Linked DNA regions of Homo sapiens: region 1 is linked to region 2. Evidence: fine-mapped expression QTL. A gene starts in region 2. The other region holds a variant in brackets. All regions are shown on one strand. Distances are from middle to middle.

Evidence for each region. PIP is the estimated chance that this variant, and not a neighbour inherited with it, causes the effect.
Region 1: its variant is fine-mapped to the expression of ZCRB1 in whole blood (TOPMed, PIP above 0.99).

The regions. Positions count from the first base shown.
Region 1 is chr12:42,591,281-42,599,619 of GRCh38, forward strand. No RefSeq gene overlaps it. Among named protein-coding and RNA genes, the nearest start is that of PRICKLE1, 5.7 kb to the left of the region's middle. The variant T/G (reference allele first, on the strand shown) is at 4,813.
Region 2 is chr12:42,321,786-42,330,073 of GRCh38, forward strand. It overlaps ZCRB1 (zinc finger CCHC-type and RNA binding motif containing 1), which reads right to left and starts at 4,309. Exons shown (of 8, transcript NM_033114.4): 1 at 4,139-4,309; 2 at 2,234-2,319; 3 at 633-661. The coding sequence starts at 2,317. It overlaps PPHLN1 (periphilin 1), which reads left to right and starts at 4,382. Exons shown (of 10, transcript NM_201439.2): 1 at 4,382-4,444. It overlaps MIR7851 (microRNA 7851), which reads right to left and starts at 2,074; the gene lies at 1,915-2,074. RefSeq lists an enhancer at 4,005-4,054.

The DNA.
Region 1 (8,339 bases), 270 kb after region 2:
ATAATTCCACTTGCTAGCGTTGTTTTTTTTTTTTTTTTTTTTTTTTTTTTTTTTTGAGACGGAGTTTCGCTCTTGTCACACAGGCTGGAGTGCAGTGGCGCGATCTCCGCTCACTGCAACCTCCGCCCCGCCCCCGTGTTGAAGCGATTCTCCTTCCTCAACCTCCCGAGTAGCTGGGATTACAGGCACCTGCCACCGCGCCCAGGTAATTTTTGTATTTTTAGTAGAGACAGTTTCCCCATGTTGGCCAGGCTGGTCTCGAACTCCTGACCTCAGGTGACGAGAATCTGGGAAAGAACAAACCAGGTTTTCTTGCCCCTCAGCATTTTATTGGAATTGGCCTTTGAAGTTGTGTCTGTTTATCTTGCTGGGGTTACAAATGCTTCTATTAAGCTATCAACTTTTAGGTTCTATCTAACCTCCAGAACTGCCAAAGAAAATTTCACTACCTCCATAGGTGAAATAAATCTTATTGCTGTACAGTGACTTCACAAAGGTTTTGTTTGTTGAGCATCTATTATGTGGAGCAGACACCCTGAGCACTGTGGATGATACATGGTCATTCCCTCTGGAGGATTACTGCCTCTTTGGACTGTGTGCTGGGCAGCATCTTTTGGATCCATTGCAAAGGTGAATACTTGGCCTTCAACCAGGACTCATAAAATTACTCCGGCCAGTGCATGTGATGGTCTGAGGTCACAACAGTCTGATTTCAAATTTCAGCCCCACCGCTTACCAAATGTAGCCTGGGGTAATGTAGTTAACCTCTCTCAGGCTTAGTTTCTCATTGGTAAGTGAGGGTAATAATATTCAGCTCAGGGAACTGTTGGGAAGATTGAATGCTGCAGAAATCACTGGAACGTTTGTATTTCATTTTATAAGGCATCTTCTCACAAGCACCCTTCTCTATAGCAGCCTCCATGCAAAATCCCACAAGTAGAAAAGAACTGTTTTTTATTTAATCTGAAAAAGCATTCTTCATTGTGAACTCTTGAATTGCTCCTGGGTCTCTTTTTCTTTTTTCTGAGTCTGTTTTATTAATGGTGTTATTTTCTTTGTCTTTACAAAGCAACATGATGTCATACCTTTTGTAAGAAATCAATTCACTTAGAGAATGTCTACTTTTCTTTTTTGAGACACCCTTGATCTGTCACCCAGTCTGGAGTGCAGTGGTGATCACAGCTCACTTCAGCCTCAAACTCCTGGGCTCAAGTGATCCTCCCGCCACAGCCTCCCGAGTAGCTGAGACTACAGGCATGCACTACCGTACGTGGCTAAGTAACTTCTTTTTATTTTATTTATTTATTTGAGATGGAGTCTTGCTCTTCGCCCAGGCTGGCGTGAAATGGCACGATCTTGGCTCACTGCAAACTCTGACCCCAGGGTTCATGCAATTCTCCTGCCTCAGCTGCCCGAGTAGCTGGGACTACAGGTGCATGCCATCACACCCAGCTAATTTTTGTATTTTTAGTACAGACGGGGTTTCGCCATGTTGGCCAGGCTGGTCTTGAACTCCTGACCTCAAGTGATCCACCTGCCTTGGCCTCCCAAAGTGCTAGGATTACAGGCATGAGCCACTGAGCCTGGCTGCAACTTCTTTTTAAAAATAACATTTTTGTGTGTTGAATTGTGTCCTCCAAAACTTCATGTTGAAGTCCTTAACTGCAGTACCTCAGAATGCAACCTTATTTGGAGATAAGGTCTTTGCAGAGTTAATCAAGTTAACATGAGGTCACTAAGTTCAGTCCTAATCCAATATGATTTTTATCCTTATAAAAAGGGGAAACTTGGGCAGGCATAGTGACTCATGCCTATACTCCCAGCACTTTGGGAGGCTGAGGTGGGAGAGTCACTTAAGCCCAGGAGTTTGAGATGAGCCTGGGCAACAGGCAACACAGGGAGATCTTGTCTCTCCAAAAAAAAAAAAAAGGAAAAAAAAGAAAGAAATCGCCAGGTGTGGTGGCATGGGCATGCACCTATGTTCCCAGCTACTGGAAGGCTGAGGCAGGACAATCACTTGAGCCCAGGACATCGAGGCTGTGGTGAGCCATTATGGTGTCCCTGCACTCTAGCCTGGGCAATACAGCGAGACCGTGTCTCAAAAAGAGGTGGGGAGCAGAATTTGGAGACAGACATGCACACAGGGAGAATACCACATAGAGGTGAAGGCGGAGATCAGGGTGATGCTTCTGCAAGCCAAGGAACATCATTGATTGCCAGCAAATTACCAGAAGCCAGGAGAGAGGCACGGAACAGATTCTTCCTCACAGCTCTCAGAAGGAACCAACCCTGCCCACACCTTGATCTCAGACTTTCCACCTGCACAACTGTAAGACAATAAATTTCAGTTGTTTCAGCCACCCAGTTTGTGGTACTTTATTATGGTAGCCCCAGCAAACTAGTACAATACCCAACCATGTCATGCTCTGAATGTGTCGTGGCTCACTAAAGAGGATTTTCATATTTAGATGAAGAATTCGTGACAGTGTGGGCCACAAGCTTGAGAATTAAGCAACAATCAGACAGTGTTGGCAGTCTTTGTTTGATTCCCAGGTCTGTTTGATTCCTAGGATTTGCTTGGCGTCTGCTCCCTGTGTCTCTTGTTCATCCACATCTGGGACTCCTTTCTTTGACTTGCAGACCCAGCCCCAACCAGTGTTTGCAGGGTGAATCAGTGTTGACCCTATAATGATCTGCAAGGGCCTGGCTGTCAGGCGTGCTCCCGGGCTGCAAATCCTACTTATGCTCTTCAGGGCTTTCAGGATAGAGTGCACACTCCTTGGATTAGTTCTAAAGGTCTTTTATATTTGCACTATGCCTATCTCTCTGGCTTATTTTTTTTTTACTACTCTCCACCCTTGTTTGCTCTAACCATATTAAGCTATTTACAGTTCTTCAAAAGCATCAGGCTGTTTTATGACTCTGTGCTTTGAAAATACCTAGAATGTTACCCACTGAAAATTGCCCTCTTTATTAGCTAACTCCTGCTTATCCTTTACCATTCGACTCAAACATCACCTTCTTGGTAGTCCATTGATGTGCATTATTTATTGTTTTGTCTGCCAAGCTTGTTTCTCCTTCTTTGTAATGCCCCCAATTTCCCTTGAGGAACCATCATCTCCCACTGTCAGTGCACATGGATTAGTTGGAGACTCATCCCTGGTTTTGGTGTTAGGATCAGGTGACCCAGACCTGGAAAATTAGAGCACTGGATCCCCTGACCAAAAGATTAGTTCAGGGATGGGCATGTGACCCAGGTCAAGTATTGGGATTTGTGCATGAGCTTTTAGTGATGCCATAACAACAACTTCAACAAGTATTTATTGATCACTTATATACCAGCCACTGCCTTGCTGGGAATTCAACAGTAAACCAAATATCCAAAGTCTCTATCTATCCTTATGGATTTTTTATTCATAGACAGGAGATATTCTCTTGTTCTTCTGTCTTTTAAACATACATCTTGGAATGCAAAGGTCTAGATTCCAGAAACTATTTTGTCACCACAGGAAGCCTGAGCATTGAGCAAGCATGAAGGAGGATAGAAGGGAGAGATGGTGAGAGAACAGGATCTGATGGCATGATTTGAGCTCCTGGATCAAACTCTACCTGAAAATGAACTACCACTAAACTTTTCAGTTAATTTAATATTTTGTTGTCATTTAAGCCAGTTTGGGGTTTAAGTGACTTACAAATTAAGGAGTACCGTTTGGTACACCCTTCCACCATTTAGAGGCTACTTTTCTCTGTTGAACCTTATACTCCTCTATCATTTTGTTTATTCGATTAGTTATTCCTTTATTCCGGAAAAGATTTATGTCCACTTACTGTTATGTACCCATAACACATAGCAAGTTAGCATAACTTGAAAGTAGATATGAAAGATGAGAAAAATAAATGAGACAAGTTCATAAAATTCATCCCATAAAGAGTGAGACACGATTTAGTTTTCAGATTTCTAGCAGCCAATGTGACGATGGTTATATAATTCCTACACAATGGAAAAGGTATCTAAATTAAAACAATCCTGTTCTTAGGAGAAGTATGACTATTAGTAAATTGAAGAGCAGAAAGAATCACCCACACCCCAGGTCCACGTGAAGAAGGCTCTAGAGAAATGATGAATAACATCCTCACAGAGCACTCACAATGTGTTTCTTGGGGATGTTTCTCAGAGCACCCATGAATTCAATGAAATTTATTTTTTAGAAGAGCAATTTAATTACTTCATTTTGTCCGGTCATGGTGGCTCACGCCTGTGATTCCAGCACTTTGGGAGGCTGAGAAGGGTGGATCACCTGAGGTCAGGAGTTCGAGACCAGCCTGGCCAACATGGTGAAACCCCGCCTCTACTAAAAATACAAAAATTAGCCAGGCATGGTGGTGAGTGTCTGTAATCCCAGCTACTTGGGAGGCTGAGGAAAGAGAAATGCTTGAGCCTGTGATGTGGAGGTTGCAGTGAGCTGAGACTGCACCACTGCACTCCAGCCTGGGAGACAGAGAGAGATGCCATCTCAACAACAACAACAACAACAACAAAAATCACTTCATTTTGTAACAGGCACTTAACAGAATATATGACAATTACAATAAAGTGAGTAGTCCGAAGTATTCTGGTATTGCATAGTTGGAGGGAATGGAGGTAGAGTGAGGGAAGACTTCTTGGAAGAAGAGGCATCTAGAAGATGAACTAACTGAGGGTAAGATGTGTGCATGTAGGTGTGTGTGCTCACGTGTCTAAGCATTTTGGGCAGAGGGAACATCATGTGTAAAGGTGAGGAGGTAAATGCAAATAGGCTGAATCTAAGGACA[T/G]GAAATATGTCCAGACTGGCTGCAGCATGGGGCACAAAAGGAGAGCAGTGAGGTGGAGGCTTGGAGGAACCTGCAGAGGAGGGCAGAGGCTGAGGCATGTAGGAGCTTAAAAGCAGGGACAAGTTTTGTGGGAGAAGATAAGGAGTTCTGTTTTGGATTATCAGAGAAAGTAATCTGCAAAACTGGCTAAAAGAAGAAGCCAGAGAGATAGGAAGGAGATAGTGAGAAAGTGTTGAATGAATACCAAAGACGAGGGCATTTCAGGAAGAGAGCAGTACCTACCCTCAGCTAAGTTTTAAGCTCCCCAGAGCAAACTGTGCTTCATGCAGCCCTAGAGTCCCACCACTAAGAGGTTTAAAGGAGGCCCTCGAAGGGTCTGATGGGTGGGCTTTGGGGATCCCAGGAGGATTCAGCAGTTTATAATAGTTCTGTAAAGCAGACCAAGCTGATCTGCACTTCCTTCAGGCAATCCTCCACAAATATGCTTTCACCAGGCTTTTGGGAGTATGGCCAGCAGCGATTTTGAGATTATAATCCTTGGGCAATACTCAACTATTCCGTGTTGTTCATTAAAAAATGAATTATATATTTTCACAGTCAACTGAGCTGAATTGATAATTTCATAAAAAGCTGAGTTTACTTAGTACATATGCAAGAATTGAAGGCCATTTCCCCTCTGCTCAAAGATGAGCGGAAGGAGGACATTGGGTCAGAGTTCATTCCTTTGTCACAGCAATCTTTATCATCTTTAATTTGCTGCCTTTTCCATTAGTTTGTTCCTTGAGGGCAGAATGCTGCCTAATTCAATGTTGCGACTCCAGTGCCTGGCACAGTAACTAGAACAGAGTAGGTGCTCAGTATCCACTGAAAGATAAATAGATACTGGGACCTTAATGGAGAGCTGGTGGGGAGAAGGGAGTGAGGTGGGGGCAGGTAGGGCTGGCCAGCCCATACCCTAAGGTGATCCAGCCAAGCCTAGTGTGGTTCACAGTGTGAAGGAGATCGGGGCCATATATTTGGGCAGTAGAGTCAGCACTAGGACGGGGAGGCGGTGAACTAGGTGAAGCAGCAATTAGGGGAGTCTAACCTCCCAGGAAGAGGAAATGTCAGGTTGTTATGGTTCAACCAATGGAGCTAAGGTTCAAGTGTGGACCACAGTGCCAGTGGCCAAATTAGGAAGCAATGTGGAATCCAATGGTGTTTACATGTGATGGAGGCACAGCTGTGGCTTGAAGGAGCTCCACAGCACATACCCAACTTCTGGAAACAAGATTAATTTCAGACCTCTACCAGAAAAATGGAAGGGCTGAGACTGGAAAATAGATTGGTGGTTGGTTTATTTTGGTTCTCTGACTCTGGCTTTCTTGTTTATACTTCAAACCCACAATATGAAATATGATTTCACATACCTGTGAGTTTGAGAAAGAGAGAGGAAAAGGAGAAATAAATGTCCTTTTTGCTCAAAGCTACTAATCTAATTTTATTTCAGATCTTCTTGGTGCAATGTAGAGACACTCAAGACTAATTTATTTACTTCAGGAGCTTACAAAAACAAGATTGAGTGACATGCTGGCTTCTAATGTTCTTTTGGGAAATATCTTGGGTTAAATGGTGCTTTCATTTTCTATTTTTTCATATAAAAAGAACTCTGGGACTTGTAGTTGAGTGACTGAAGGAGGACTAAAATCAATCCTCTACCTCTGAAAGTTGAGATCTTAGATTTTACTATATATTCTCTCATTCCTATAAAAAGTAGCAGCTCCTGCTGCAGAATGTTGCTTATTCTGCTACTTTTGACCCCAGGCCTGAAGAACTCCTATAGATAGCACGTGAAGTTCCATAAATATCTTCAAGTATGACCTACAATGACTACATTAGCTTTTCCTCTCACTAGTGCTGTTGCTGGGGCAGAAGTTCCCAGAGGTCTGAGTTTAAAGAATTCCACCCCTCCTAGGCACACTCGTACCACCAACCACAACTCCCAGCCCGAGCTCAGGATCTGTGGGGCATTAAAGTAAAACAAAACTCAAGAAAGCATAAGAAAAAACGTGACATGTTCAATAGTGGTTATGGGTTGTAAGTATCAAAAACTTTCAAATAGAGATGACTACATTTACACTCCATTTTCTTCTGGAAAAATTATTGGTTTTGCTCACCAACTCTGAAAATCCAGATATAGCAGTAGATGCTAGGAAGGAGTTAGGAGCAACTTGAAGCAGCTCTCATTTTTGAGCTCCTGGGAACTGGTTCCCAGGCCAGCACCTCCGCCACCAGGATGTGGCTTTCTGGTGAATGAGAGCCACCGATGGGCCTAGAAATTAGTCTTTTATGTTAGTGTGCTAACCATGTGACTAGAACACATTCTCCTCTACATTAGTGTCCTAAAGCATTAGCAAAATAATATGTCACTCATGATGCGACTGAGTGAAATGTATAAAGGAAATTGGTTTACTAAACCCATTAGGTTAAAAGGCAAATGGGAGACTAAAACAATAATCAAATGACAATATTTTAATTTTTAGGATTAGTTATCTGACAGGAAATTTCTCTTTTAATTTAATTTCTACATTTTAAAACAATGAAGTTTAAGGAGCCTTAGAGAGAAACACACAAATCAGCACACTTAGTCCTTTTTATAGAGTTTCAGGGTTCCAACCCACTCTTGCTAAAAAGTACTATTTCAGCCACCAAAACAGAATAATTCAATATGAGAAAAAAAAAAAAAAAAAAAAGCCCATGGAGATAAGGAGCTAAAATGAAGTCAAAGAATCGGGAATAAATTTTCCCCAAATGAATGACTCAAGATGTGAGATCCCAGCCTATACTTCTGCCTGGCACTTGAACTCCTACATTTGCAAGTTGTATGAAATCTCCTCTAATCTAGAATTGGAATTTGCCTGTAAGCAGCTATAGTTTTCTTATTCTTACTGTCTGGTTAAATAGGTTAAAGCAGGCAGGCAAGCCTGTCAGCAGGGCCTGAGAGAAACAAGAATGTAGTGGGAATCAGGAGAGATGTGTGAGTGACAGTGTTAGGGGGAAAAGGAAGAGAAAGGAGAGGTAACTCTCAAAACACAGCCAGAGGAAACGAAGCTCTTGTTACAATCATGGCAGAAAGGTCTTGATACTGTTTTTCCCCAGAACTGAGGTGGATGCTCTATGGAAGCACCCTCCATAGAGGCAAAGTTGTTGAAAACTGATCTAAGTCATATGATTTTACGTAGTGCAACTGCCCATCAATGGATTCAGGACTGGCACTTGGCAAGTTTTTTATTATTATTATGAATATTATTTTTATTAGAGTACTAAGGGTTAATAACAGAAGACTACATTTTCTTCTCACTTTTTAAATTAGAGGCTGACATTGATTTAAAATGTCTAACAGAAAGCCATGGCTTATTCCTCACTGATTTATGAGCATCAAAGGATGGGGAAGCTAGCCGCATTCTTGTCATTTCAGTGGTTCATTCTCTCCTTATTCTGAGTGAGGTCTTCTAGTATATTGGTTATGTGGCGTCTAAGTTTTGATC
Region 2 (8,288 bases):
CAGTATCCTGTTACTTTTTTGCCCCATAATATAGTTGCTTGATTTAAAACAGTGAAATACGAGAAGTTCAAGTTCTTTTTATTGTTCCTAACCCTCAGCCCTGTTATCATCCATTACCATTTTTGCATGTTTCTAGTCTTTCCAACGATCTCCAAGCTATCTCTGAAGGAAGATAATATGTTTTCTATTTAAAAGACTCATAGCATCCTGCAAGTCAGATGCACTGAAATATTTGTTTTTACACTATTTATATGAAAAAAAACAAAACAAAAAACCACCTATTTATTTGAAAGTAGGTTACTTATAGTATACTTGATAACACACTTCCTAGTAACCAAAATATTTGTTTACCATTAGCTATGAGGATGTATCTTTATAGCACATGGAAAGACATTTATGGTATGTCAAATTAAAAAAGAAAAGAAAATTGTATGTATGTAATAGTCTTTAAGAAAAATTGTCTACATGTTTATGTACATGGAAAACCAACTAAATTGTCATAAAAATGTTAATAGTATTTTCTTTATTATATCAAGCATGTTTTATTTTTAAAAATCTGTCATTAAAAAAATGTAGAAGCAAATTCAGATAAACTTTTAAATGAAGTTACAAAATTTAATGTGAATACTTACTTTACAACTTTGCCATACTTGGAAAATATCTGAAACAAAAGACCAAATATTTACAATTTATTTTAAAATCATAAAACATCAAATTTTTAGGTTGCAGACATTGACCAAATTCTTTGTTACAGTTTATGAATAATTTCAGCCTTCAGTCTATAAGACAGGCCCTAGGAAAAAGTTTTTTTTGGTTACTAGAATAATATACTTACTGTTGTTGGAGTCACATGTATCTGTCTGTTTCTAAATTTGACAATGGAGTAAATACAGAGAAAAAAACTCACTCTACACATGTGGTAGATCTAAGGCATACATACTGGACAGCTGCTGTGTTCCTGAGGTATACCCATGGCAACTATCAACTCCATCATAGTGCCAGATACACCTGTGCTTCAAATGTCAATCTTATGGAGCAGCACTTTTCCAATTCTACCCTCACCACTACCTTGTTATTCCTATTAAGCAATCCCTGTTTGAGAAGGCAAATCCTTAGACTGCTTTATTTAAAAAACAAAACAAAACCTCATAAAATAAGCTTTTATAATGAAAAATCCATTTCTATCAGTCTTCTTCCTCTGCCCACCATTAACATGTTGGTGGAACTTTATACTTGGCTCTCTCTTCTGTTACTTTTACTTTATCCTATGCAATCTCATTTATTTCTACAGTTCCAGCTCATTACCCATATACTAAGAGTTCCTATTATATAAAAAGTCTTTTAGAATGTGTTAGTATATGCAACCAATAATAACGAATTTTTTCGTTCTATGATTAAGCTGTATAATGCTGGAATGTAAAATAACTGGATAGCAGTGTTAGCAACACTGGGTTCTGAAGGCCAGTACAGTCTTCTATATAATACTTACTAATGGCTTCTTGTTTCATGCAGAGTGAAAGCCAGAGTCCTTACCATGATGTAAATAGGTCGTATAAGGCACCTCGAGTGGGCTTACCTAAGATTACCCCTCTTTTTCTGAAATGTTTGTCCTCTAGAATTTGCACAGGTGCCTCTTACTCGTTTCAGGTCTTTATTCAAAAGTCACCTTCTCAATAATGGCATTTCTGACCGCCCTATGTAAAATTTCACTTCCATTCCCAACTTAACGTTCAATAGCCCACCTTTCCTGCGTTATTTTTTCTCCTTAGCACCTAACATCTTAGCATCTCCTTAGTATCTAACACATAATTTGACTTAAATGTTCAATAAATATAGCTTCTATTTTTTTTTCTTTTTTTTTTTTGAGACAGGGTCTCATTCTGTCACCCAGGCTGGAGTGCAGTGGTGTGACCTTGGCTCACTGTCGCCTCGACCTCCTAGGCTCAAGCAATCTTCCAACCTCAGTCTCCCAGGTAGCTTGTAGAGGCATGGTGGCACACACCTGTATTCCCAGCTACTTGGGAGGATGAGGTGGGAGGATCACCTGAGGGGGCGGGGAGGCTGCAGTGAGCCATGATAGTGCCACTGCACTACAGCCTCGTGCCTCAGTGACAGAATTAGACTGTCTCAAAAAAAGAAAAAAAAAAAAAGGAAAAAAGAATTTGCCAGGGAGAACTATTTGCTTAAGGTTATCTGTATCTCAAATAGCAGTCACTCGATAAGATTTACTTACCCGGTACAAGTCATTGTTTGTCAGGGAAAAAGGCAAGTTGGATACATACACTGTGCTCTTACTTGGAGCCAATCCACCACTCATTTCTAAAAGTGAAAACAAACTTATCAGCAATCAGTCTAAACCAGGATTCTTTTTTTGTTGTTTGAGACGGAGTTTCCCTCTTGTTGCCCAGGCTGGGGTGCAATGGCGTGATCTCGGCTCACTGCAACCTCTGCTTCCCAGGTTCAAGCAATTATCCTGCCTCAGCCTCCCGAGTAGCTGGGATTATAGGCATCCACTACCATGCCTGGCTAATTTTGTATTTTTAGTAGAGACAGTGTTTCACCATGTTGGTCAGGCTGGTCTTGAACTCCTGACCTCAAATGATCCACCTGCCTCAGCCTCCCAAAGTGCTGGGATTACAGGCATGAATCACCACACCTGGCCTAAACCAAGTATTATTAATTCCAAATAAAACCAATACATCAGACCAGTCTGGGTATTATTTGGAAAAAAACAAAAAACAAAAACCAATAAAGTATTAACAATCACCGATTTAATTATGCCAGATGTGTACACCTTCCTTACATTTTAGGAAGTTAGGAACAATGACTCCAGCAGGCTGAATTAAGGAATTCCTTTTTCCCAGTCACCACTTAAAAAAAATTCTTTTTTGGTTCTTCTTCTTTCAAGTATTCTTTATACCAACACTTTCAGTGCCAGATTGTATGGGTAGGGAGACGGGTTTTGAACAGATGAAGGAAAAACCCTGAGGCTACTCCTAACTTCCACTCAGACCATGAGCAAAAAAAATGCTCTATTGAATATGTACTGTATATGTACATTACCTGCACCTTGCTCACCCAGGTCAGAAAGAGCATGGGGACTCAGACAGAACCTTAGCCACTGATTTTTGCTAATACACAGTCATGCTATGCTTAATGAAGGAGGTATGTTCTGAGTGTTACGTGATTTCACAGTGCAGACATCACAGGGTGTACTGAGACAAACCTAGATGGTCTAGCCTATTGCTCCTAGGCTACAACCTGTACAGCATGTTAATGTAGTGAATAATGTAGACAGTTGAAACACAATGGTAAATATTTACATAGCTAAACACAGAAAACGTACACTAAAAATATGGTACAATGTATTACACTCTTAGGAGACCACTGTGGTATATGTGGTTTGTTGTTAATCAAAAAGTTGTTATGCTGTGCATGCCTGTACTATGGCTGGGTACCTTTTTTGCTTGTCTTAATATTTTTTTTCTCTGGAGTGGTGTGTTAAGAGGAAAATTTTCTTTTCCCCTTTTAGTATGATGTTAAGGAGTAAATTTAAGCTTTATGTATCGACAATATAAACTTCTTTCGAAACGCTAATTTTGCTTATTGCCAAATTATGAAATGATACATTATATAAATAGGCTTGGTGCCTCGAAGAGACAGACCTGTAGGTATGTGTGTATATGTATATAAAGTTTACAAATGTAATCAGTAATTTTCACATCTTATCTTACAAAGTCAGCAAATTACCGTGAAAATATCAGGCTCAACCAAATTCAAATTTCTGATTTAAAAAGAGCGTGCGGTGTGTATTTGAGATGGGAAGATCAACCATCACAAATGGAAAAATACTGACTCTATGGCATGCCAATTCGTGAAGGAATGAGAAAACTGCCTCATGTTTGGTGTTATGGGGGAATTATTTAGAAAACTTCAGGAACTCAACATAGATACGTCGCTTTTTAAGTTTCTCATTTGAAACTATGCGTTACACGTTCTGCTGAGAGCCGCGAAGGCAGGCAGAGGTTAAGGTCCTGGAATAAAAAGGGTGGCGGGAGAGAGGGGCAGAGCGTTTTGGCAGCCGAGTCTGGGGAGGGGGCCCCGCAGGAGAGAAGGCCGCAGCTGAGGAGGCGTTTACCTTCAGGTGGGTTGGGCCTGGGAGACCAGAAGAGTGCGAGCCCTCGGCTCAGCTGGGGCTCAACCCCGACTCTTCGTAGCCGCTCGCAGCGGCCTTGGCATCACGAGTCCTGGGAGGGGTCAGGCGCGGAGAGCAGATAATAGCAGCCACGGTGCTTCTTCCCGACTGTTTGAGATCCGGGCCCCGAAGGCGGGCCCAGAGGCGAGCGCTTCGCTAACGTCATTGCGCGCGCCGGAAGTACCTACCTGGGATAACGGCGGCGAGCGGACGGCTGCATTTACGGGGTCTCCCGGAGGGCCAGAGTCGGTGAGCGCTTTTTACCTTTCCCAGAGATGGATGCAGAGCGTGTGCGGGCTGCTAAACGGGGGGGAGTGGGCGGGAGTTTTCTGTGTCGGGTCCTGGATTCTCCTGCCTTTGAATTGTGTGACAATTCTGCCCATGCGGTTGAGGGTGGAGAGACGCAGTGGAGTTTGGAATAAAGGGAAGTATTGAGTCTAAGATAGGGGTTCGCCTCTCTGTAGCGCCTTAATATGCAAGAAGACGACTGAGCTAGGTAACTTCAGTGACCCGAGAGGAGTCAGGAAGTCGGTAATTTTACTGAAGGTGTTCACGGTACCCAGCTATTAGGCACTTTGGGAACTACAAAATAAACAGACCTTTTATGTTTTGTTTTGTTTTGTTTTCTGGTGAAGATCTCAGTCTAGTTGGGGAGACGAGGTCAACTTGGGGAGAGTTGGATTCACAGAATGACTCATCTTTAGTATGGGTATGGACAAGTGTTGATCTTCTTGGCACCTTTTCTCTTCCTGTAAATCTATAATGGCTACGCACTGCTTTTTCTCTAAGAGGCCATAACATGCCCACCATTCCTACAGAAAAATCAGAACGTAATGCAAGGTAATTTATACTTCTGCCTACCAGCACATACAGACCAGGCCTCTAACCACTCCCTGGGAGCCTGCGTTCCAGCAGCCTGGAACCCACAGCCTCTCCTGGAGCCTGCACAATCAATCCAGAGTGAAGCCGATGTCTTCTATAGAGACGGAAGTACAATCCATCCAGGGCGCAGCTGAATTTTGAGAGGCCTGAATGCCTCCGTGGCCGACAGGAGACCGCTGGCACTAATTCTCTAGGCATACTTGTGGCCAGCCAAACTTACCATGCTTTACATCTCTGTTATCCTTGGTTACCGCCCAAGATGTAAGCTTCTGTGGTCTTCTGTGCTATAGTCTCATTTCCATGCTGCTTTGTGCTTTCTTTCGACTTAGGCTATCACTGCTTCTTCGTTTCTTCCCCATTTAACCCCTCAACACCCCATCTGTGCTTTCTGAAACCTCTATTTCCTGCTTAAACTATTTTACATATTCAACTTCTTTAGTGAAATTCTCCTTCATCTCCTAACCTTAACTATTGATAACACGTAGATTTTCCTGCCAGCCATTTCAGTTGAGCCCTTTCTCTGACCCTGCATTTAAAGGTTGGGCATGGCTGTAGCCATGTTGAACGGATTTCAATTCCTCAGAATACTTTCTTCCCTCAGTATCTTCACAAAGGCTCTTTTCTCTCTCTGGGACATTTGAGCTCCCTGTTTCCTCCTATCTTTTTCTGGATAACTTCTATTAAAGATCTGAGTTTAGCTGTCACTTTACTTGAGGGGTATACCCTAACTTCCATAGAGTTAGGTATTTTTGCTATGTACTCTTAGCTGTCCTGCACTTCCCTCACGGCATTTATCACATGTATCTTAATTGCTTCTTTGCCATCCCTACTAAGCGAGACTGTCGGTGAGGGACTGTGTTTGTCTCGTTTATCTTTGTAACTCCAGTAGCTAATACAGTTCTTGGCACATAAGACAGTCAGTTATTTCTTGAATGATTGCAGGTGCTGAAGGTATGCTGCAGAGATCAGGCAGTTAACGTTAATGAATACTTCACCCTTAGAAGGGGTCACCTGCCACTCAGCTACAGCTGATTGTGGCTATGTGAGAATATGATCCCAGTTTTGCCAGAACATCTAATTTTTTCAAAAAAAGTTGGAAATACCATTTTTTAAAAAGCATCCTCTCCCAGTTTTTAAATGTTGTCAGTGGAATAGAATTTTATTAAAAAAAAAAAAGTGGGTCAAACACAAGTCTCATATGGCCTATCAGTCACTAGTTTGGAATCTGTTTTAAGTCTTGTAGGGTTTATATAATGGGCTTTGTGGAGAATAATAGGTTTTGAGTTGGGCCTTGATGGACCGTTGGATGTTGAATGAGAGAATGGAAAAAGATATCCCGTTTGGAAAATAAACAGCTCCGTGGTAGTATGTGTTAGTCTGTTTGTGGCACAGTAAGGAAACAGGCATAATTATATGCTTTTGGAGAGAATAGAAGGTTAGATATAATAGAAGGAGGCATATGGAAGATAGAAGTTTGGATTTATTATGGTTAATAAAAAACCTCTTGGATTCTTGATCCTGGAAACTTCACATTATGAATATGCGTTAACAGTTGATTATCCTTTTTTAGGGTAAAATGGAGGGTAAAACACTGGAAGGAGGCTGACCGGTTAAGGCCTTAACTTCCATCCATATATGAAATAAAATTCAGATTTATAAATATTATATGTAGGCAGACATCTGGCATTTTTGTTTACTTGTGTAATTTCAGTTAATTGATCAATTATAATGGACAATCAGGGATCTCCTACTAAGTTTAGTGCAGTACATTCGGGCTTATAAAAGAAGTATCCTTAAAGCGTTGGAAAGTCAAGTGACTTGTGAAACTAGTAGAGAATGCAGTACTTTTTATTTTTTTATTTTTTGAGACGGTGTCTTGCTCTGTTGCCCAGGCTGGAGTGCAGTGGCACGATCATGGCTCACTGCAACCTCCATCTCCCAGGTTCAAGGGATTCTCCTGCCTCAACTTCCTGAGTAGCTGGAATTACAGGCATGTCCCACCATGCCTGGTTAATTTTTGTATATTTTTTAAGTGGAGACGGGGTATTACTATGTTGGCCAGACTGATCTTGAACTCTCAACCTCAAATGATCCGCCAGGCTCAGCCTCCCAAAATGGTGGGATTACGGGCATGAGCCACCGCACCCAGCCCCAGCATCAGTTAATTTTTTTTTTTCAATGACCTTAACTAATTATGTTCTAAAATTTATGTTTAGTTGTCTGGAATTTCAATTTTTTTTTTTTTTTGTGTGTGTGTGTGACGGAGTCTCACTCTGTCACCCAGGCTGGAGTGCAGTGGCGCGATCTTGGCTCACTGCAAGCTCCCCCTCCCGGGTTCATGCCATTCTCCTGCCTCAGCCTTCCGAGTAGCTGGGACTACAGGCGCCCACCACCGCCCCCGGCTAATTTTGTTTTTGTATTTTTAGTAGAGATGGGGTTTCACCGTGTTAGCCAGTATGGTCTCGATCTCCTGACTTCGTGATCCGCCCCCCTCGGCCTCCCAAAGTGCTGGGATTACAAGCGTGAGCCACCGCGCCCGGCCTGGAATTTCAAATATTTTCTAATAGAAACATTAGAATATTAATTCACTCTGAATACTGAGCACAGTGTGCAAATTGTTCTAGGAGCTTAATATTCATCAGTGAACAAATAGACATTCCTGCTTTTTATTATTATTAGCATTAATAATCTAAGATACTATATAGTGTACTTTTAATACAGATTAAACCCTCACTACTAGAAATACTACTAGTAGAAATATTACTAGTGAGGGACTAATGTGTATTAAAAGTACATTATGTGGTATCTTAGATTATTAGTGCTAATTAAAGATAGCACGATTGGGGGATCTGTTATAAGTGACATTAAGAAGGTGACATTGAAGGGCAGGAAAGTTAATTCCACAGATACCTGGATGAAGGGTGGCCTGCCCCTCCACACCTGTGGGTGTTTCTCGTCAGGTGGGACGAGAGACTGAGAAAAGAAATAAGACACAGAGACAAAGTATAGAGAAAGAACAGTGGGCCCAGGAGACCAACACTTAGCATATGGAGGACCTGCACCGGCACCAGTCTGTGAGTTCCCTCAGTATTTATTGTTTACTATTTGCACTGTCTCAGCAAGGGGAATGCGGCAGGAGAACAGGGTGATAGTGGGGAGAAGGTCAGCAAGAAAACGTGAGCAAAGGAATCTGTGTCACAAATAAGTTCAA